Linked DNA regions of Homo sapiens. The protein of the gene in region 1 purifies or fractionates together with the protein of each later gene. This does not show direct contact. Each region holds a gene or a part of one and is shown on either strand. Other genes may lie near its edges.

What was found.
Region 2: the proteins of ZNF317 (region 1) and TUBA8 purify together in Homo sapiens (affinity purification with mass spectrometry; 2 studies listed by BioGRID and IntAct, with this or other methods). This does not show direct contact.

The regions. Positions count from the first base shown.
Region 1 is NC_000019.10:9,157,344-9,161,090, reverse strand, and holds part of ZNF317 (zinc finger protein 317), read right to left. Parts: coding exon 3,697-3,747; intron 3,258-3,696; exon of another isoform or gene 3,112-3,257; coding exon 3,016-3,111; intron 2,266-3,015; coding exon 2,183-2,265; intron 978-2,182; coding exon 1-977. UniProt on the Homo sapiens protein: May function as a transcription factor. May play an important role in erythroid maturation and lymphoid proliferation.
Region 2 is NC_000022.11:18,108,993-18,112,739, reverse strand, and holds the start of TUBA8 (tubulin alpha-8 chain), read right to left. Parts: upstream 1,932-3,747; 5' UTR 1,875-1,931; coding exon 1,872-1,874; intron 1-1,871.

The DNA of each region.
Region 1 (3,747 bases):
ACTTTCCCGCAGGCGGCGCATTCGTAGCGTCTCTCTTGCGTGTGTATCTTCCTGTGTGCGGTGAGGTTTGAACTCGCGCTGAAAGCTTTCCCGCAGAGATCGCACCCGTATGGTTTCTCTCCAGTGTGAGAGTTCATGTGAGTCTTAAGGATGGACTGGTTTCGGAAGGTCTTCCCGCACTGCCGACATTCCACGGGTTTCTTGACGATGTGAATCCTCATGTGTTTCCTCCGGGACACGAGATCGCCAAAGGATTTCCCGCATTCTTTACATTCGTAGGTCTTCTCCACCATGTGGTTCTTCTTGTGCAAATTAAAGTTGGACTTCCAGCGGAAGGCTTTGCCGCACTGCGTGCACGCGTAGGGCTTCTCCCCCGTGTGATTCCTCACGTGCTCTTTGAGGTGGGAGGGGTGCTGGAAAGCTTTCCCACAGTCGTGACACTCGTAGGGCCTCTCTCCGGTGTGCGTTCTCTTGTGTGCGATGAGGTGGCAGCTCCGGCCGTAAGCCTTCCCGCACTGATCACACTTGTAAGGCCTCTCGCCAGTGTGAACTCGCATGTGGATTTTCAGGGCCGAGAGGGTCCGGAATGCATTTCCACACTGACTGCAGTCAAAGGGCTTCTCTTTGAGGTGAGTTCTTGCGTGGCTCCTAAGGGCTGAAGGGTCGTTGAAGGCTTTCCCGCAGTCGCTGCACTCGTAAGGCTTCTCCCCGGTGTGGATTCTCCTGTGCCGTGTGAGGGACGCGCTCGTGGTGAAGGCTTTTTGGCACTGATGACATTCATGCATTTTTCTCCCGTCGTACATGCTCATGTGCTGAGTGAGGTGCGGCCTGCCCTTGAACGCTACCCCATAGTCGCGGCGGTGATAGGGCCTCTTGCCAGCGTGCCTTCCCATTGGCTGAGTGAGATGAGGGTCCATGCCAAAGACTTCGAACAAGTGAGCGTATTCAGTGGACTTCTCTCCAAGACCGGCTCTTTCCTGTTGGTTAAGACGTAAGTGCTGACAAAGGCAATTCTCATATTCATTGCAACCCTAAGCGTCATCCCCACATACACTGCTATGAACAGATAGAAGCACATTACTATGACTAGAGCTGTAACCATCTGCCGTGCAAACGTGCTGTCCCTGCCCCATTTGAGCTCCATCAAGGACAATAGGTGAATGCCAGGCCACAAGGCTCCACATGTGTTACTTTTTCAAAGCTTTTTGCATATAGCATTTCTTCACTGCTTAAAACTGAATTGAGGCTGGGCAAGGTGGCTCACGCCTGTCATCCCAGCACTCTGGAAGGCCAAGGCGGGTGGACCACCTGAGGTCAGGAGTTCGAGACCAGCCTGGCTAACATGGTGAAACGCTGTCTCTACTAAAAATACAAAAATTAGCTGGGCATGGTGGTGCACACCTGTAATCCCAGCTACTCGGGAGGGTGGGACAGGAGAATCACTTGAGCCTGAAAGGTGGAGGCTGCAGTGAGCTGAGATCGTGCCATTGCACTCCAGCCTGGGTGACAAGAGCAAGACTGTGCCTCAAAAAAAAAAACAAAAAACAAAAACAACAACAAAAACAAACAAACAAAAACCACTGAATTGAGGCTGGGCATGGTGGCTCAAGCCTATAATCCCAGCACTTTGGGAGACCGAGGCTGATGGATCTCCAGGAGTTCAAGACCAGCCTGGGCAACATGGTGAAATCCTGTCTCTGCAAAAAATAGAAAAATCAGCCAAGTGTGGTGGCACACGCCTATAGTCCCAGCTGCTCAGGAGGCTGAGGTGGGAGGATGGCTTGAGCCTGGGAGGCAGAGGTTGCAGTGAGCCAAGATGTTGCCCACTGCACTGGGCAACAAGAGCAAGACTGTCTGCCCCCCAAAAAATAAACACCACCAAAACTAAATTGATAAGTAAGTGTACAGCATAAATATAAAATAAAACAAAAACTGCATTGAGCCCCAACACTCAATATCTGAGACACAGCTATAAAAATCTTCACTCAGAGACACTCTAGGTAAAGTAGCTTGAGGTTAGCTTTAGGGTTGTCTCCATCTTGGTAATACCCAGTGTCTCTGAAACACAGTCTCCTCTGAGGGAAGCTGCTTGCCCTGGTGTTGAACTGCTTTTCTAACCTAGGCTGCCCCAGTCTCCTCAGACGTGGAAGGAAGATCCAGAATTATCCCACGGAAATCTTACCATCGTCACACCACTGGGCGTTTCCTTCCCAAAAATATCTTCCATAAGAAGTGACCACTTGGTTTTAGATGGAGTCTCCCAATCTGAAACAAATTGGAAAAGTATTAATTGTTGGAAAAGGAAAATGGTGGGATGATGGTGACAATGACAGGTGGATTTCTTGGCAGATCCTAAGGCTATGTAAGGAAAAGTGGTGCAAAAGCAATTGTTAAAAAATCTGGTCATGTGAGATATTTGGCAATGCCAGGGGTAGAAATTTAAGTCAATTCAGGCCTGGTGCAGTGGCTCACGCCTGTAATCCCAGCACTCTGGGAGGCCGAGGTGGGTGGATCACCTGAGGTCAGGTGTTCGAGACCAGCCTGGACAACATGGTGAAACCCATGTCTACTAATAATACTAAAATTAGGTAGGCATGGCGGCATCATGCCTGTAGTCCCAGCTACTTGGGAGGCAGAGGTTGCAGTGAGCCGAGATCATGCCACTGCACTCCAGCCTGGCAACAGAGTGAGACTCCGTCAAAAAAAAAAAAAAAAAAAAAAAAAAAAGAAAAAAGAAATTTAAGGCAATTCAGATGATGTTGATAATGACAGAAAGCGGATGATCAGAAACATCAAATATGAAAGAATGGGACAAAGAGCCCAATAATGGGAATGTGAAAGTCAAAGATGAAGGAGTGTGTGGACCAAAAGATTTGTCAGAGAATGGATGGGCAAAAAGAGGGAAGGAGCATCTCTCAATTTCCCTGGGTGACACTCCCTAACCTACCTCCCTCCACCCCAGTCACTGAATAGAGGTAGAGTCACAGCACCGCTCTTTGCCTGGGGCTCGCTCACCTGCACAAGCGCCCTGGTGAGCGCCCCTCTCCTCTGTCCTCGGCTCCTCCTCCTGCTCCAAGTGTGAGATGAGGCTGGGTTTGCCGACCTGATACCCTACACTCACGGGAAAGACACAGGTTGAGGGAGGGCCATGCAGAGGACAACCCCTTCCAGTAGCCTGGGCTCAACACTTGGGTCTTCAGTGTTCTGAGGGTGGACAAGTCTGACTTAGGAGCAGCAAAATGGTGGTGCCAAAATTTCTAAGGAACACAGTAAAAGTTTTTGACTGATAGAAAACAAAACCACAGGCAAAGCATGGTGGCTCGTGCCTGTAGCCAGGAGTTCAAGATCAGTCTGGGCAACATAGTGAGAACCCTTCATCACCAAAAATAAAAAAAAAAAAAAAAAAAAAGAAATAGGAAATAAGATCACAAGTACCCACACACTGACCCTCCAAAAGAATGGGGATTTCGTATTTCAGAAGCCCATGCCAAGCTCAGACACACACCGGAGAACCACCATGGTCCCTGCAATAGATGGGCCTCGATACCCAGGAGAGGCCCCATTAAGCATGGGTGCTGGGGCTGCTTGTTCACAGCTGCGTTCTGAACCGCTGCATAGTTCCTGGGTCACAGAACATACTCAAACAAAAACATCTAATTCATGGATGAATAAGTGGAGAAATGGCACTGGCCTTACCCAGTGAAGTGAGGTTGCTGTAGTTCTCCAGCATTACATCTTTGTACAGTT
Region 2 (3,747 bases), on another chromosome or scaffold:
AGTGTTTCAAAATAAATGAAAGGTGGTCGCATTTCAAAATATTTAACCATAGGTTTTCAGCTAAACACCCAAATTCTTAAGCACGTTCAAAATAAAGTTTTGCTGTTTGAATTGTTGATTTACCAGGCATTGTCAGAAACACGTCTGTGGATCACACATTCAAGCTTGTGCACAGGGCTGGGTTAAGATCCTCGACACGCCCCTGTAAACATCCTCTGGGCTCCACTCTGTACCACAATGGCATTCAGATCCAAATTAAAGCATGCAAGGGAAGCACTTGGAAAATCCTAAAACACTAGCTACCTGCTAGATATTATAAATATTAAATATCAATTCTAGAGTATGCAGCCTAGCATTTGCTTCAAAATTATGGAGGGAGGGAATAAATGAAGTGAGACAGGTCAGAAGTTGGTAATTATTGAACTTAGATGATGTATATAATCGCTAATTATACCATTTGCTCTCCGTTTGCATATGTTTGAAATTCCCTACCATAAAAAGTTTAAAAATAATGAAATCTAAGTGGAGTCTTGGAAATTTGAATTATAACCCTCTTCATTTCGCAGGTAAAACAAACACATCCAGAGAGGTTAAGTGACCTTCCTGAAGTCACACAGCTAGCTGCAGAGCCAGGAGTCAAAATTCTGAACTGGCAGCTCCGGGCCCTTTGTGTGGCCTCATACCAGGGTCCTCAGGCAGAAATAGGTTCCTGTGGCCACCCTCCCTAATATTCCCAAGTTCTTTCAGTTCCCAGGGGTGTCTGGGAGCCCGCTAGGAGGAGGGAGGGTGCTGACAAAACTGAAGCTGGAAGGCTAGAGCTCCGGGGGAGCCAGGAGGCCCTGGGCACGGGCCAAACGTAACAGGGCGGGGCGGAGGGGGTTCTCGCCTGCTTTCTGGATCACTGACACCTGGAGCAAGCCTGCCCAGGGAACCCGACCTTGGCCATGACATAGGCTTATTCTGCCCTCACTCTGCCCCCAATCTTTCCAGCCCATCTCCCTACTGCTGAAAGATCAGGGGTCCAGGAGGGATTCCTGGGATTCTGGGCTTTGGGAAAGTGGACTGGGGGCAAATGTTAACCACCAGGGGCACTGGGGGCGGAGAGGGGGACCCTAGAAAGAGGAACTGAGTGTTTGCAGCCGCCCCTCAGTAAGATCCAGGGGCGGGGGCAGGGAAGGGAGCAGCCGCGATCCCCCTAAGCCAGGGTAGGAAACAGGTCGAAGGTCCCCTGGCCTTTGGAAGCAGAGACTTCTTACTCCCAAAGTCCTTCGACTCTGACCGCTGGAAAGACTTGGGAGCTGCTGAGTGCGCCCGGAGGACCCCGCCGCGCTGGGGCTGTGCGTGCAGCAAACCCAAGCCGCTGGCCAGGCTTGCGAGAAAGACCTCCACGCGTGGGGGGACCGTGGCGCCCTAGGTCCTCTGTCACATTCCGGGCCCTGTCACATTAGGCTGGGTTCGGAGACGTGACTGCATCTGGCCCCCCAGTCGCCCCGGCCCAGACCACCCATCCAGAATCCCCGGACTCGCCCTTCTCTCCACTCTGTCCACAGGCTGCCCATCTGGGGACCCCAGAATCTCGCCCCCTTCTCCGTCGGGCTCCCCAGGGCCTCCCTCCCCCTCGTCTGCACGCAAAGCTCCCTTAGGTCCCTTTAAGGAACAACTGGCCCCTGGTCTCTATTTCCCCCATACGATAAAGGGCACCGGGTGTTCCCGCCCGAGGGTGCGGACTCCTCGACCCTGAACTGCCACCCCCAGAAGGCCTTGAGCCCTGCGGCTCCAGGAAGACGGGTCCGTGCGCCTCCGCGTAGACTCGGCTCTCGGTCCTACGCCTGCCGCGCGCCCGCAGCCCGCCTGGCCCCGGGAAGCCTCACCATCGCTGCCGCTGTCCTCGCCCGCGCACCTCTCAGCTGGGCCTGCCCGCCCCGACTGCTCCAGATACAGCCGCCTCCGCCGTTGTGACACACCGGGAGGGGGGGACGCCGGGGACAGGCGCGCCGGGCCCGCAGCTGCCCCCCGGCATCACAGTGCCGGGGAGGGGCGGGCAGGTCACAAAGGCCCCTCCCCGCCCACCCGCGGCTCAAATCTCCGGGTCCTCGGTCCCGCCTCAGCAGCCGGGGGCGCTCGCAGCGGGGACTGCGCCCGCGGGGGAGGCTGCCCTATTACCAAAGCGCACGTGTCCACGTTCCAACACCGCCGGCGAGAGCAGCCTTCGTGACCCCAGCTGCCGGAGAAAGAAATGTAAAATGCAGCCAGGCGAATCGCGCGGGTCTCCCCAAACTTCCGTTCTCCTCCGACCCGCTGGAAAGGCTCCTGACTGGGGTGCAGCTGACCGGAGCGGGCTGCAGCGGGCCCGGGTGCCAAGGTGCCGTCTCAGCTGGGCGCCCTAGGGCCGTGTGTGCTTGGCAAGCTGCAGGGCCTCTGCTCCCAAAGCCTGTGCCTCCTGCCGCCAAGGCCCGCCTGGTTGCTGGAGACGGAAATGAGATGGCATACACAGAGCTCCTGGTACAGGCAGGTGCTGAAGACTGTTCCCGTTTTTACCCTCTCCCCGGATACCTCGCACCTCCACCGGGATTTTCAAATCTCCCCCCTTGATCCCTTCCTACTTTTAAGCCCCAAACGTGTCCAAGTCACATCTCCTATGTAATCCAGAACTCATACCAGGGTTCCCCTGCCTCTGCCCAGTAGTAAGACCCGCCAGATGCTGTTGGTTGCCCCCTGCTCGGGAAGGGGTGGGCACTTGGTAAAAGCCCCTCTTCACACTTTAGATGTTGGCCACGTTGTCACCCTGCCCATCTCCCCTCACTTCCCCCCAGGTGGGTGAGGGGCTGGATGGTCTTTGTTCCTTGTTCTCACTGCTGTTTCTTGTTCTTTCCCTCCAGTGGTCAGTTCCATTCATGTTGAAAGGTGTACCCCAGCCTCTCTCTTCCACTTTCCTCAGCACCAAGCCAACGCAGGCAAATTCATAGGTTTTCCTTAAGACAATACCACTTTAGCCAGACGTGGTAACTCCCCAAGTTTCCAAGCACAGTTAGAGATCTTCCTACCCTTCTGCTCCTAAGACATGCCTGCTTGTGGCCAATAGAGAATGAGAGCAGATTTCTGCTTACCTATGCGGCAATCTGTTCTGTTGGCCACCCATTCATAAACGATAGTACATGTGTCGTAATCATCTTTGCATTTGAGAGAGTACCAAACACAGTGCTTTACCCACTGATACAAACGGTACTTAGTAAAGCATGCGTTGAATTTTTGTCTATCTTATAATGTAAGATCCTGACAATTAAGACTCAGGATTAAGCTAATTGTGCCAAGCACATGATAAATGGTCAATAAAGGATTTTGGTTATTAGTATAACTCTATGTGTATTTCTCTTCCAAACTCTCCCATAGCATATTCTATTACTTCTTCCATAGCATTTCTTTTATTTTTTATTTTTTTTGATGGAGTCTTGCTCTGTCGCCCAGGCTGGAGTGCGGTGGTGTGATCTAGGCTCACTGCAACCTCCGCCTCCCGGGTTCAAGTGATTCTCCTGCCTCAGCCTCCCGAGTAGCTGGGACTACAGGCGCGTGCCACCACGCTCGGCTAATTTTTTGTATTTTTAGTAGAGACGGGGTTTCACCGTGTTACCCAGGATGGTCTCAATCTCCTGACCTTGTGATCCACCCATCTTGGCCTCCCAAAGTGCTGGGATTACAGGCGTGAGCCATCGCGCCCAGCCCCATAGTATTTATCACTTTCTTTTTCTT